Homo sapiens: one gene and its partners. The protein of the gene in region 1 purifies or fractionates together with the protein of each later gene. This does not show direct contact. Each region holds a gene or a part of one and is shown on either strand. Other genes may lie near its edges.

Region 1 (3,500 bases):
AAAATATCTCTGATTTAACCTTTTGAAAGCTTTTAACTAAAGGCTGTGCTGGAGACTTTACCATGATTTTTTTTAATGTCATTTTGATCTAAGCAGCTTTGCGTAAGGCCTGGAAGCTGTGAAAGAGAAAATCTGCATTTGTGGGTGGCAGTGGGAAGCAAGGCAAGCCTGAAGTGTTGATGAGATCTTCAGAAGCGTGGAGTTACAGTAATTTATAGGGACTTTCCCCAGACGAGATTATGTCATAGGAAAACTATCTTATTTAACTCATGGGCAGCAGATGCTGAGAAATGTTACCATGGTATTATTTTTGCTTCTGGAGAATAATCACCCAAAAATTTCGATCTTATCTGCAGCCTCACTGCTGGGATAGAATCATCACAAAGAGGAAGAAAACAGGGGCAGAGCTACAGTGATGGCTTTTGTTGGGAAGTTTGGAATAGGAAGGCGTTTACCAAAACCTGTTTTTCAACACATGTTCTGGAGTGCCGGGGAAGTTTGGAATAGGAAGGCATTTACCAAAACTTATTTTTCAACACATGTTCTGGAGTGCGAGGTTCATGCCACACCCTCACCCGTGCTGGGTTTGGAGATGAGGTGTGTGGGCCCTCACCCAAGTGTTTCCAATAGAGGGATCTCATGTAGCTTCTTTATTGCTGTGATTCCTCACTCCTATTAAATACTGGAGTTTTGGATGAGTGTAGAAGTATTAGCATGACTGATATGAAATTAAGTGTTCTATTGATTAACATGTTTATAATAACTTGTCAGGAATGCTCATAGAGCAGGAAACAAAATATATCTCATTCTTTCTTGGCTACATTTTCACCTACCATCTTGTTTATTATAATAAATTATAAATATATATTTAGCATATGTTACTTATATGATCTATATTATAACTATAGGTAGAGATGTAAATCTCAACAAAGGTATGACTTTCTCACTTTGCAAACAGGTTACTGACAGTAAAGTCTTCTCAAAGTAAAAGGGCACTCTTCAAAAATCTTCTAAATTTTTTTCCCACCTAGAAATAAATTGCCAGCAAGATGGGGGTGATAAAAGGCATTCAGTATTGTGGTTTGGATGACTTTTAGTTCTACAAGTGAATGAGGCATTTGGTGGCTGTTGCTATTTTCAGCAAGGAAGCCACACCCAACATGTGAAGCATTACTGGTACACCTCATGGCCTGATCACAAGACTCCAGACAGTGCCCAGCCCCTCCTACAGCTCATGCTGGATGTAGAAGAAGACAGACTTGCTTCCCAGGGCCGAGGGCCTGTGGTTGTCCACTGCAGGTAAGACGTGTATGGTCCTTTCTGTCTAAGCAATGGCCCATTCTTTGTAAAGTCACAGAGCAGGTGCAAGTGGGTTTTGCTTCCTGGATGTGACTTTGTTGGCAAATTAAATATTTATTGAAATTGGTTAAGTCTGTAATATTTGAGTCTGAATCAAGATTATGCTGACAGAAGTGAAGTCATGCTTTTAGGTCATTTTTCACAAACAACAATTACACAGTCGGCGAAATACAAGTTCGTAATAAATGGCTCAGTGAACAGGAGACCTATTCAGCAGTTATCTGCTTTGAAACTTATATTGATTGATTTAGTCTCATCAGTCTTGTACACACCAGGAATAAAGATGCACTTTTTGAAATTATCAGTGGCTTTTTTGTTGTTTCAACATGACATGTGAACTCTGCTTGGCTTGTATCTTGGTAACATTACTATTTCAAGTTTGGTGAAAACCAGTCAATTATTTTAAGAGTTATCTCCAGAAAAACAGGTTGAAACAAATTTATGAAATGAGAAGTGAGCAAGTCACCAAAGGAAAACAAAGTGCTGTTACCAGAACATGGAGCACTAGAGGCCAAGCCAACAACAGCAGCAGGGTCTGTGCTGGTTCCTGTCCCTAATTTCTAGTTCAAAGCTCTCTTCCTAAAACTGATACCTCCTTCCCCTAATTTTCCTTTTAATGTAACCAAACTGAAGGCAGCATTTTTAAAGTAATTTATATGAACAACTATTTATTTATTTATTTATTTATTTATTTATTTATTATGAGACAGAGTCTCACTCTATCACCCAGGCTGGAGTGCAGTGGCGCTATCTCGGCTCACTGCAACCTCCGCCTCCTTGGCTCAAGTGATTCCCCTGCCTCAGCCTCCAAAGTAGCTGGAATTACAGGCATGCACCACCACGCCTGGCTAATTTTTATATTTTTAGTAGAGGCGGGGGTTTCACCATGTTGGCCAGGCTGGTCTCAAACTCCTGACTTCAAACGTGATCCACCTGTCTTGGCCTCCCAAAGTGCTGGGATTACAAGTGTGAGCTACCATGCCCAGCCAGCCATTTATTCTTCATGCTTTCTCAAAATAATTTGGGTTGCTTTGTTTAACCGCATAGGTCTCTTAAGTCAGCTTTTGATGATATATTTAATAAATATATTATTTTAGAGTATAATTTTAGCCTCCTTTTTTGAGATTGTGTGGTTTAATTAAGAGTAAAGTTTACTATGTGTCTATTTATCCAAAGGTAGATAATACTGGCTTTATCCTAAACTTAACTTGGAGCCAAAAAAACAAAAACAAAAAAACAGCCTAACTGACTATGCGTTAGGGCTGGAACTGTCCCCCACCCAAAGTCATTAAACACTCAGGATATCTAAAATGAACTAGTCACTTCCCCTATAAAACCAGCTCCCCTTCTGATTACTATTTCTGAGAATGAGACTATCTTTTTTCCAGTCACTCAGGATCCCATGTTGACAGTTATCTCTGGTCCTCCTTTTAACTCCAACATCAGTATCTAATCAGTCACTAGATTGGCTTTCCCTTCAAAGCTTCTCCCATAATCACCATTTCCTGTCCAGCCACCATAGTTCAGGCCCTTCTGACCTCATCCATGTATTTTAGAAGTAGCTGGTAAAATGCACACACATACCGCATTCCCCCATGCTCTCACCGCCACCATGGCCTACCTGTGCCCTTTCTCCGTCTCACCTTACATGGAGTCTCTGCTCAAAGCTTGTCAATGGGCCAGGTGCGGTAGCTCACACCTGCAATCCTAGCACTTTGGGAGGCCGAGGCAGGCAGATCACTTGAGGTCAGGAGTTCAAGTCCAGCCTGGCCAATATGATGAAACGCCCTCTCTACTAAAAATACAAAAATTAGCCAGGCGTGGTGGAATGTGCCTGTACTCCTAGCTACTTGGGAGGCGGAGGCAGGAGAATCGCTTGAACCGAGGAGGCAGAGGTTGCAGTGAGTCAAGATCCCGCCACTGTATTTCAGCAGCCTGTGCGACAGAGAAAGACTCTGTCTTATAAAAAAAAAAAAAAAAAAAAAAAAAAAAAAAACTAGAGCAAAAGTCCCTAACGTTGAACCTATCCATAAACCGCAGAGGTCAGTGAACTCCTTGAAATTATTTGGACACATTTGAGTATGTAAACTTATGTGAATTTTTCTGAAGAGTGGAAGCTTATAGTCTTCATCAAATTCTTA
Region 2 (3,500 bases), on another chromosome or scaffold:
GGGCAATTTTGGAATCCCACAGAACCCTCTTCCCTGGGCCCTAAGGGAACCGGCATCGGGGTGTGCCCCTGTGTCCCAGGCAGGGGCGGGGCAGGGCTTGGGGGGTCACTGGGCCCCTCTCACCCTCTGTGTGCCCTCAGGGATCGGGCTGGCCCTGGCTGCGGCAGTGAGGGGCTATCGCTGCATCATCGTGATGCCAGAGAAGATGAGCTCCGAGAAGGTGGGTGGGCGTGGCCAGGGGCGGGGTCATAGGGCAGGGGATGAGGGTGCCTGGGCCAGGCGGAAGGTGCAGGCCACCGCTTTCCCTCCTGCAGGTGGACGTGCTGCGGGCACTGGGGGCTGAGATTGTGAGGACGCCCACCAATGCCAGGTTCGACTCCCCGGAGTCACACGTGGGGGTGGCCTGGCGGCTGAAGAACGAAATCCCCAATTCTCACATCCTAGACCAGGTGAGGCACCTGGGGCCTGGAGACAGGCATTCCCTAGGAGGGTCTCGGTCAGGGATGTGGGGGTGACTGAGGTGTCAGGGGTCAGCTCACGGGCTCTGCTCTCTTTCTATGCAGTACCGCAACGCCAGCAACCCCCTGGCTCACTACGACACCACCGCTGATGAGATCCTGCAGCAGTGTGATGGTGCGTCCCTCTGTCCATCTTGATTGCATTTATCCCTGGCTGCCTGGGAGTGTACACATCTCTTGCCCTCTCCTTGGTGAACTCCTATTCACCCTTCAGAACCCAGCTCAAATGTTCCCTCTGTGAAATGCTTTTCTAGAGCATTTCTCTAGAACAATTTCCTCCCTCCGTTGTGCCCTCTTGGCCTCCGCCTGTGGTTTACCTGTAATAGCAAACACAGGGCATGGCTGTATTTGTTTACCCAGCAATCTCTGCAGGTCTGCAGGGGCTCCTCCTGCAGATAATGCAGACAGCGAGTCTGTTCAGGGCCCAGGCTGGTGCTGGGCTCACAGCTTGGACTTCATTTGGGATCATGCCCTGACTCGGCATCAAATTCATCTGCAGAACAGAGCTGGTGACATCTGCGATGAGCTCACTCTCTGTTACAAGCATGAGGCCGGCTCCTTGGGCCCTTTTCCAGGGACTCGGTGCCAAGGCCTGTGGGGGTTGGTACTGAGGTTTTCCCAAGAGATCCCTTTAGAGATAAGTTGCCAAGAGGTTGGCGCCCTGGCTTCCTATTGGGAATCCGGTGTTGGCATGGGCTGGAGTACACCCTCAGTCCGTGCCCAGGAGCCGGGCTGTAAGGTCCAGGCATTTGGTTGTTTGGGCTTTATGTGTGAGAACTCTCTCATTTGGCAAAAACAGTCCTGTCTCAGCATGGGTGCCCAAGCTGCTCCGTCTCGCTGAGTCTTTCCCTGCTGTGACTTCTCCACCAGATGCCCGCGCTGGCGGCCAGCAGTGTGAGCGCCCAGCGAGTTTCTGCGCTGAAGCCTAAAAGACTGATTCCATTTCCTGTGTAAATTCAGTTAACTCACTCACACCACGCAAACATCCAACAGCCCACGGAGGTGGTTAATTCACAGCCTCCCTCTGCCCGCCCTCAGCGCCTGCACCCCCCGGACAGGGTCCTGTCTTTCTGCATCCAGCCAAATGGGGGTTTTAGGGGTCGAGTGTCACTGAGCAAAGACTGGGCTGGGGTGCCCCAGGCTGCCTGTTTCTGAGGCTTTCACAGACCAAGGGCAGCAACGAGGGCTGCTCCAACTGGAGAAGAAGTTTTTCTTTTGAACTTTTTGGTTACCCACCGTGGTTTGGGCTGAGTGTGTTTTCAATGATTATTACTATGAGTGATGGGCTGGCCAGGCAGGGACCCAAGAATGTTATCCGTCCACCAGGGAAGCTGGACATGCTGGTGGCTTCAGTGGGCACGGGCGGCACCATCACGGGCATTGCCAGGAAGCTGAAGGAGAAGTGTCCTGGATGCAGGGTGAGTGGTGTGGCCGGGCCGGAGAGGGGCAGTGCGGAGTGGCCCCGGCTTCTGAGCTGAAAGCTGTCATTCCTCACGGTCTGCTCAGCACGCTGTCTCCCGCGGTATTTCTGCGCTGCCTGGGAGGTGTTTGGGAAGACAAGGGTGCTTGACACATAAGGGACCAGCAGCTCGTGACCCGAAGGAGCTGGGGCTGGGTGCTCGCTCACCGGCCAGTGTCTTGGAGAACCTTCCTGCGCTGAGTGGGGGGTCGGAGTTCCAACTGGGGGCCTCTGAGGATCAGCCAGGAGCTCTAAGTCCTCTGGTCCTGAGTCTGCCCCTCAACTGGGGCTTGTGGGAGTTGGGAGAGGGTTCCTGGACTCGGGGTTAAGAGCAGGTCTGAGGACGGGTGCCTAGAAAGGTCCCGCTGATGAGACAAGGGCGTTCTCTCCCTGTTGCTTGCCCTTGAAAAAGACGTCACTGCCCAGCAATGCCCTTTGTCCCCAAAGGCTCTGCTGCTCCGCCGCAGGGTGGTCTGTCTGGACTGTCCTGGGGGCCCCGCTCCGAGAAGCACCCCGGGGAGGTCAGTTCCTCCCAGGCACCTGCCTTTACTTCTGAGCGCCCTGCACTGAACATTTAGGTCATTACCGCTTTAATACTTGGAGCCTGGGTTCTTGGGTTTCTCATCCTGCCTCTGAGGCTGGGAACAGGCCACCACCCACAGGCAGATCATTAACAGGCAGTTGTTAACGGCGGTATTGGCCACTCCCATAATAGAATATCGAGGCATGTCCAGGCGGGGCTTTTGCTGGCCTTGAGCCCTGAAGCCGCGCCCTCTGCAGATCATTGGGGTGGATCCCGAAGGGTCCATCCTCGCAGAGCCGGAGGAGCTGAACCAGACGGAGCAGACAACCTACGAGGTGGAAGGGATCGGCTACGACTTCATCCCCACGGTGCTGGACAGGACGGTAGGTCGAGTCCAGAGCCCGGCCACAGTGCCGGTGCAGCCTGTAACTCACCCTCACACTGGGGAGCCTGGCTGACCCTGGGCCCCAACCAGCTTCTCCACTGAAACAGAAGGGCAAGCCCCGCACGCATGGTGAGAAGCTGGTCTCGAAGGTCGAGACAAAGTAGACTGGGGGACGATGTCCGCACACGTGGCCTGACCTCACCAAGGGATGTAGCCCAGGTGGCACAGGCAGGGAGCAGGGAAAACGTGTGAAAATTAAGGCCCCGGAAAAGTCTGTTAAGAGCCAAAAAGCTGACTTTGGCCTGAGGGAGAGCAGAGACCGAAGGGCCGGTGTGGGTCACACGGATGCTCAGTGGGGCTGGCGGGCAGTTTTGCTGTCTGCAAAACGTGTTGGAACTGGAAAGTCTGCAGACGTGCCGATCCCAGGGGGAGAGGCTGGGGTGAGACCTCTGGGGTCCTACCGCCTAGACACGGGGTCCACCATGAGGCTGTTCACCCTCTTGGTCACGTGGGAGCGGCTCCCACGCTGACGGGCTGTGGTGGGGTCCTGCTCAGGTGGTGGACAAGTGGTTCAAGAGCAACGATGAGGAGGCGTTCACCTTTGCCCGCATGCTG
Region 3 (3,500 bases), on another chromosome or scaffold:
GTTTTGAATGTTTGGAATTGCTTTGGGACTACCTCTCTTGCCATTAGTCTGGGCTCAGAAAATAAAAACTAATTTTATTATAACCCAAAATAAAATATTGGGAGGCAGATATCCTGAGGAGAAGATTATAACCCATGAAAAAATCACATTCAGTTATTTTAATTGATCTTTTTGCTGCTGCTGTCTGTTTGTTTGAAAAATAAAGACTTAACTATCTTTGGGGACAGGGAAAAATAGTTATCCATAGAAAAACAAGATTATTTTCACGTAGTCACTAGGTATGGTAAATGATACCTCTAATGCTAGGCCTCCTGTGGCATCAGGCAGGATGAAACTAGACAGTCTCCAATAAAGAAAATATTATTCAGAGATCTGCAAAAGAGGGAGGGAAGCACCAGTTCTCAGAAACAATTGATTCATTCAGTTAACCAGGTACCTAGCTTGTATCATCAACAGAGACAGAGTCGCCAGAAAGCTTTCTTTCTGTCCAACGGTTGATGAGAATGAAGGAGGGACAGAAGAGGGGGAAAAAAAATAAGTAAATTATAGGATCTGTTACAAAGTTGAACATGCTGTGGAAAAAAATAGTAGAGCCGGCTGAGCAGGATCCAGAGTGCTGACGGGGCCTGCAGTAGGTGGGGAGAGGCTAGATTACAGGATGAAACAGGACAGTCAGGGTCAGCCTCGTTGAGGAGTTGAGGTTTAAGCAGAGGCTTGAAGGTGGTGAGTGAGCCAAGTAGGACTTGGGGAAGAGTTTGCAAGGCAGAGGGGCAAGAGCACAGCAAAGGCCTTGAGGTGGGAGTGTTCCTTTCCAGGAGGCGTGCAGGTACCGGGAGGGTGTGGGACTGGAGACGGATTGCAAGGGGCTGTGAAGCCATAGTAAGGACAATGGCATTTGCTCTGGTTGAAATGGGGAACTATTTGCAGGGCTATGAACAGGAGTAGCATGATCTGACATATATTTTAGAAGAATTATACCAGCTGCACTGTTGAGAATTATTTGGGGACACTCACCACTAATCCCAAAGAGTTGTATACTGTCCATGATGTTCATGGATAGCCTAGAGAGTTAAAACTTAAGCTCAGCACACCCCTCTCTTACATTTGATTCATACACTGTTATTATCCATACTTTACAGGTTAGGAAACTAAGGTGCAGGGAGGTAAGGCCACTTATCCAAGGTGACAGATCTAGTAAATGGTGGAGCCGTGATTTGAACCCAGGTTCACATGGAATCCAGAGCTTACATGTTTAAACACCATACCAATCTTTAGGTATCTGGGCTTAAGATGTGGACTTTTTTTTATAATATAAGCAATCATCAACTTCTGTGCCATCCACATACTTACGTAGTCCTGGCTGCTTTGATTCCTTTAGTATCTGTCTTTTGATTTGGCTTCCTTCTGCCTGAGCCTTTCCCCAGCAGCCTTTTTGTGTGAGTTACCTGCTGCCACTAAGGTTTCACCATGTTGGCCAGGCTGAGCTTCCTCCAGACCTCACCCCATTCTGAGTAGATGCTAGTTCCTAGGGCAGTCAGGGTCTCTGTGTAGCTATTGAAGCAGATTCCCACTTTGTCTCCTCTCTGTTTAGTCTTAGTGTTGCAGGGAAATTTGGGGTAATCATTAGTATTGTGTCATTGTTATGTAGGTTTATGTAGGCTGGCCTGGGAATTTCCCTGCAGCTTGTGGCAGTGTTTCTGTGAGGGGAAACGGACTTACAAGTGAACTTTTGGAATACACCGCATCTCTGTGTTAGGGACTCCCTATACTTTTTGTTCACCAAGCTGAGCATGTGGCTAACTTGTAAAAGTCAAAGATCGATAACCAGAATGACCTAAGAGAGCAGTGCGTGCTAGATTAGTGTACTTTTCTACTCGTAAAAATAACTGGTTAATTATTTTTTCCTTCTTCATTCAGAGATGAGCATCAGGATTTTATGGATGAGCAAAAACGACTAAAGAAGCTTCGTGGAAAGGAGAAACCAAAGAAAGGAGAAGGGAAAAGAGCAGCAAAAAGGAAATAGTGTTGGTCCCTCAAGAGGGAGACTTTCTTCCTCAGTGGCGGAGAGAAGAAAGTGCATTTATTGTCTTTCCACCTATTGGAGGAATGTCATCTTCCTAAATGAAGTTTATTTGGAGGAACACAGTCATCTCCTTGGTGAAATCTAATCCGGTTACATTGTGGCTGGTTTCTTGAACACATTCTAACTGTGCAAAATTATCTTGGCCTTGGCCGTGTAATGTGAGGTTTACCTGATTCTCTAATGAAATAAATACCTAAGTTATTGTTTGATGATTTGTTTGGGGTGGGATGGGATGCTGGGGGAATGGAGGGGAAACCTCATTAAGTGAGCATCCTATAGTGTCCTCATTTCTCCCTTCTTGCTTACTGACTCACCCAGCCCTAAACTTCTTTCATCTTGGGCCTTTCAGCCACTGTCTCCACCACCAAGCTCACAAACTTTGTGTGTGTCTTCACCTACTCCTTTGAGAAATCTATTAAGATGAATTTGTAGAGTAAGTATCTTTTAAAAGGAAGTATTGAATACCTGCTCTGTACAAGATATTGGGGCCCTGGTAATACACGTGGTTAGCAAGAGAAATACTCCCTACCTCATGTAAGTTTCAGTCTTGTGGGAGGGACTAATATTACATAATTACATACAATTGTATTACATGCTACAAAGGAAAAAGCCAGACTTCTATAAGAGCATGGATGGATGGATGAATGCAGAGAGAGATAGCCAGAAGCCCAAATCACATTAGGGAGTTTAAAGAAAGCTTCCCTAAAGAAATGATATTTAAGCCAGGCGCTGTTGCTCACACCTGTAATCCCACCACTTTGGGAGGCCGAGGTGGGTGGATCACAAGGTCAAGAGATCGAGACCATTTTGGCCAACATGGTGAAACCCCACCTACTAAAAATGCAAAAATTAGCTGGGCGTCGTGGCATGCACCTGTAGTCTCAGCTACTCGGGATGCTGAGGCAGGAGAATCGCTTGAACCCGGGAGGCAAAGGTTGCAGTGAGTTGAGATCACGCCACTGCACTCCAGCCTGGCAACAGAGCAAGACTACATCTCAAAAAAAAAATGATATTTAAGCTGAACCTTGAAGAATAAATAAGAGGTTGCCAAAAGGAAAATGGTGAGAAAGGGGTTTGAGGCAGAGAGTACTATTTGCAAAGCCCTAAGGTATGAAGAAATTGTCTGTTCAAGAAACACTGAGTTTGTTCATGGTTGGCTGTAAGAAAACAGAGGCCAGATCATGAAGGGCTTTGGAAATTCTGTGGAAAAGCTTGAACATAACTAGAAGTTCTATGAGGGATGACTGTTGTATAGATTTGAGTAGCTCGCTGCTGGTTTTATTGTATTCCAGCAATGAGTTTCCAAAGAAATTGTGAAGGCTTGGCCGGGCACAGTGGCTCACGCCTGTAATCCCAGCACTTTGGGAGGTCGAGGCGGGTGGATCACGAGGTCAGGGGATCGAGACCATCCTGGCTA
Region 4 (3,500 bases), on another chromosome or scaffold:
ACTAAGCTTTGAGTCATGTGTGGGGCAGGGACCTCCCAAATTCCAGTTTCTATGCTGGGTGAGGCCGAGAAGCAATGGAAGGGAAGGGTGGTGGGGAGGCAGCAGGCCTGGCGACCAGGGCACAGGGGCCCCACCCTGCTCTCCGAATCTGGCTGCCTTGGACAAGCCTCCTTGGTCTCTGGCCTCAGTTTCCCCATTAGTAATTGGTGACATCAAAGTCCTCTTGTGGGCCAAAGATATGCCACAGCTGCATAAAACAAAACAGAAGAGAGAGTAGAGGTGAAGGTTTTGTGTGCGAAATTGAAACAGAGTCACTTGAAATGGATAATTTCAGAGTAAAAACTAAGTATTTCTAATTAGGTTGATTGCAGATGTTGGTGCACAGGAAATTCTATGCCTTCGCGTCTAGATTTCTGTGGGGCAATTTGACAGAGTTTATCTCCTGGATTGGCTCAGGGCACTGCACCCTCTTGATTTCGTTCCCCTCTGGTGGCACGTGTCTCCGAGCACCGGGAATGACTGAGAGCCGCAGGGCCGACCCTCTTTGCAGAGCTCTGGGAGCTGCGGGAGGGTTGGGCAGCAGCAGGGTTATGTTGGGTTCAGAATCTGGCGTGAGAGCCTGGCAGTCTCCACCCTCATTCCTCACTGCCGTTTTCTTTTCTTTTTTTTTTTTTGAGACAGAGGCTCACTGGATCGCCCAGGCTGGAGTGTAATGCACAATTTTGGCTCACTGCAACGGGGCTGTCAGGTTCAAGTGATTGTCCTGCCTCAGCCTCCCTAGTAGCTGGGATTAGAGGCACCCTCCACCATGCCTGGCTAATTTGTGTATTTTTAGTAGAGACAGGGTTTCACCATGTTGGTCAGGCTGGTGTTGAACTCCTCACCTCAGGTAATCCGCCTGCCTTGGCCTCCCAAAGTGCTGGGATCACAGGCGTAAGCCACTGTGCCCAGCCCTTCACTGCCATTTTCAAGGCTGCTGGTTGCATTAGGGACCTGTCCCTGAGAGGCTGGGGAACCCCCACGTTGCCCCCGGTGCTTTGCTGGGTGACAGCATGGATGGCGGAGAGCTGCAGCCGGAGTCTGGTGAGATGAGCAGAGCGGCCAGTCTTGTTACCACACTTCTCTGAGTGTTGCTCTCCTGACCAGACGTCCATCTGCGGCTGCCCTGTGGACCTGGGGAGTGGGCGAGCAGTCAGCTCTGTCTGCGGAGTCTTCCTCCGTCTGCCAGGGCTGTGTGTGCCCTGGCTCGGCGCTGTCTGCCATGTGCTCCCGTGGCCAGGGTCGCCCTCTCCTCTGTGGTTTGGCAACTGTCCTGCCCGGCCTACGTCCTGTGGCTCCGGCTGAAGCCTGGGACCTCTGGAGATGGGTGGCTCAGCCCAGCCTGCTGGGCCCACTCAATGCCAGCTTGGGCCCGGCCACAAGTAGGTCAGATGCCAATTCAGTGAGACGCGGGGAAGATGAGGGAAATGACTTGTCAATAAAACAGTCTTAATTATGGCTGTTTTAGAAAAAAACCACCACGAACCTTCCTGAGATCAAGCGCAGCCTGTGCTGGTTGTGTAAGCCGTGGAACGTATGAGAAAGCCAGGAAGAAGAGCACCCCCACGCCCAGCCCGCAGCATCTCACTGGCTTCCTGGCCGCCTCTCCTCATCCCAGTCGTAGAGGCGTGAGCGGGCCGGGGCATCTTTCCTTCCTCGTGTCATGGGGGCTTGGGCAGGCGCCGCTGATGGCCTTACGGGCAGCACAGGGGCCCTGCCTAGGTTGGCCCAGACGCTGTTCTAAACCTCCCCGAGGTGACCTTGCTGCCTTTGTCTCCATGAGCCTCGGAGTATATCCTGAATTTTGTATGATTTTGTGTTTCCCATTTTCCCATGTTCCATATTTTTTTGTTGTTTCTGCATCAGGGTGGAGGCTGATCCACATCCCCAACACCAGCAGTGAGCTGCCGAGGCCCTCGCGCCTGGGCTGGGCACTGTCTGGGCCTGGGCTGGCACCACGAGTAGCCCCCGCACACATTAGGCCGATCTGGAACATGTGGGCTCACCCGAGCTGGGAGCACCAAGACCCTGCCTACATGCTTGGAAGCGAGTCAGGCCACAGCGAGACCCGAACCCTGGTGGGATTTGGGGGTCCTGGTTTAAGACCCTGGCACTTCCTATGGATGTGGAAATCTCTCATTGAAAGCTTCAAAGAGAGCAGTGGTGAGAGCAGCACCTCCACACGCCACTGCCTCCCCGCCCTGGTGCGGATGTCCCTGACCTTCCGCTCTGCCCAGACAGGGCCTGTTTCTCGAGGAAACCCACCAGTTAGAAGGAACCCATGGGAAGAAACGGCCGGAGAGCTGTGAGGCCAGCCACAGAAGAGCCAGTTTTGGAATTTCCCACCAAGGGTTCAGCCTACTGCTCGCCCTTCAGCCTCTGGTGCCCGGCGGCTCAGCTGGGTTCTAGGGCCACGCAGGGCTCTGCAGTGTCACTCCGGGAGAGGGCTGTGGGGGCAGCTGCAGGCCCGGCGCGCCGAGTCCACGCAGCCTGGGTAGGTCCTGCATGGGCCCAGAGGTCGTGGGGCTCAGAGAATTGAACCACGTGGGAGGAGTGTACTGTGGCGGGGGCCCCATAGGAAGCCCACTGTCCTGGAGGCACTGGGGCGGCGGGGGTGTGGAGCGGCTGGCAGGTTCTTGGTAGACGCAGCTGGGGTTCTCTGCTCCTCTGCCCTGCAGCCTTGGCTCCCAGCGAGGTTGGCAACAAGCATCTGGACTCCTGGAAGTCTTCCAGAGGCTGCTCCTTTCAAGTCTCTTCCTAACTGGATGCACGTGGGGTCCCCCGCGGTGCCTCAGCCTCCCCTGCCTTTGATGGCTGGGTATTTTGCACCCAGGCTGCTGGCCCCTGAGCACAGGGATGGGCTGGAGCCACAGGCTGCAGGGAAAGCGCATCAGGAAGGTTCCTGGGGCGTGCGGTTCCCACACAGGTGCGTCCGGGGGCTTCCTGGTCCCTCTGTCAGGAGCCTGAGCTCCAGGGACTGAGACGAGCTGGGCAGAGCCTAGCCACTGTGGCCAGAGCTCTCACTGCCAGCAGGATCTCTCTTCAGGCACCCTGGAAAGGTGCCATGGCTCCGGCTGGTAAACTTGGCCTTGCAAAGCTCCACGTCCCTGTGTCTGGATGTGCCCAGCCCTGCTGATACGGTGTCTTTAGGGTGTCGCTTTTCTGGCCAGAAACGTCTCTGGCCGGCAGCACCTTTGTCCAAGTTCCTGTTCTGCGTCCAGGAAGAATGAGGTAGCAGACAAGTGGAGGGTGAGCATGACGAAGAGAAGCTTTACCAAGTGTTGGGACAGTGCAGAGGAGACTGTGGGGGCAGCTCCTCTCTGTAGGCAGGTCGGCTCATTCAGTTGGCAGCTCTCAGCAGAGAAGCGGCCCCGGACTGGCTGGCTCCTCTCCATTGACTTCCCAGCTCTCAGCAGAGAGGGTAGCTTCCCTCTGCAGCTGGTCTTCCACTTGCCAATTGT

What was found. The genes of interacting proteins can lie anywhere in the genome.
Region 2: the proteins of PTPRR (region 1) and CBS purify together in Homo sapiens (affinity purification with mass spectrometry, with the first as the bait; one large-scale study listed by BioGRID). This does not show direct contact.
Region 3: the proteins of PTPRR (region 1) and MRPS33 purify together in Homo sapiens (affinity purification with mass spectrometry; one large-scale study listed by BioGRID and IntAct). This does not show direct contact.
Region 4: the proteins of PTPRR (region 1) and KCTD5 purify together in Homo sapiens (affinity purification with mass spectrometry; one large-scale study listed by BioGRID and IntAct). This does not show direct contact.

What each region holds. Positions count from the first base shown.
Region 1 is NC_000012.12:70,658,739-70,662,238, reverse strand, and holds part of PTPRR (receptor-type tyrosine-protein phosphatase R isoform 1 precursor), read left to right. Parts: intron 1-1,031; coding exon of another isoform or gene 1,032-1,037; exon of another isoform or gene 1,038-1,141; coding exon 1,142-1,299; intron 1,300-3,500. UniProt on the Homo sapiens protein: Sequesters mitogen-activated protein kinases (MAPKs) such as MAPK1, MAPK3 and MAPK14 in the cytoplasm in an inactive form.
Region 2 is NC_000021.9:43,062,336-43,065,835, reverse strand, and holds part of CBS (cystathionine beta-synthase), read left to right. Parts: intron 1-140; coding exon 141-220; intron 221-314; coding exon 315-449; intron 450-563; coding exon 564-633; intron 634-1,844; coding exon 1,845-1,936; intron 1,937-2,757; coding exon 2,758-2,883; intron 2,884-3,440; coding exon 3,441-3,500. UniProt on the Homo sapiens protein: Hydro-lyase catalyzing the first step of the transsulfuration pathway, where the hydroxyl group of L-serine is displaced by L-homocysteine in a beta-replacement reaction to form L-cystathionine, the precursor of L-cysteine.
Region 3 is NC_000007.14:141,004,953-141,008,452, reverse strand, and holds part of MRPS33 (small ribosomal subunit protein mS33), read left to right. Parts: intron 1-1,917; coding exon 1,918-2,023; 3' UTR 2,024-3,500.
Region 4 is NC_000016.10:2,689,023-2,692,522, forward strand, and holds part of KCTD5 (BTB/POZ domain-containing protein KCTD5), read left to right. Parts: intron 1-3,500. UniProt on the Homo sapiens protein: Its interaction with CUL3 suggests that it may act as a substrate adapter in some E3 ligase complex. Does not affect the function of Kv channel Kv2.1/KCNB1, Kv1.2/KCNA2, Kv4.2/KCND2 and Kv3.4/KCNC4.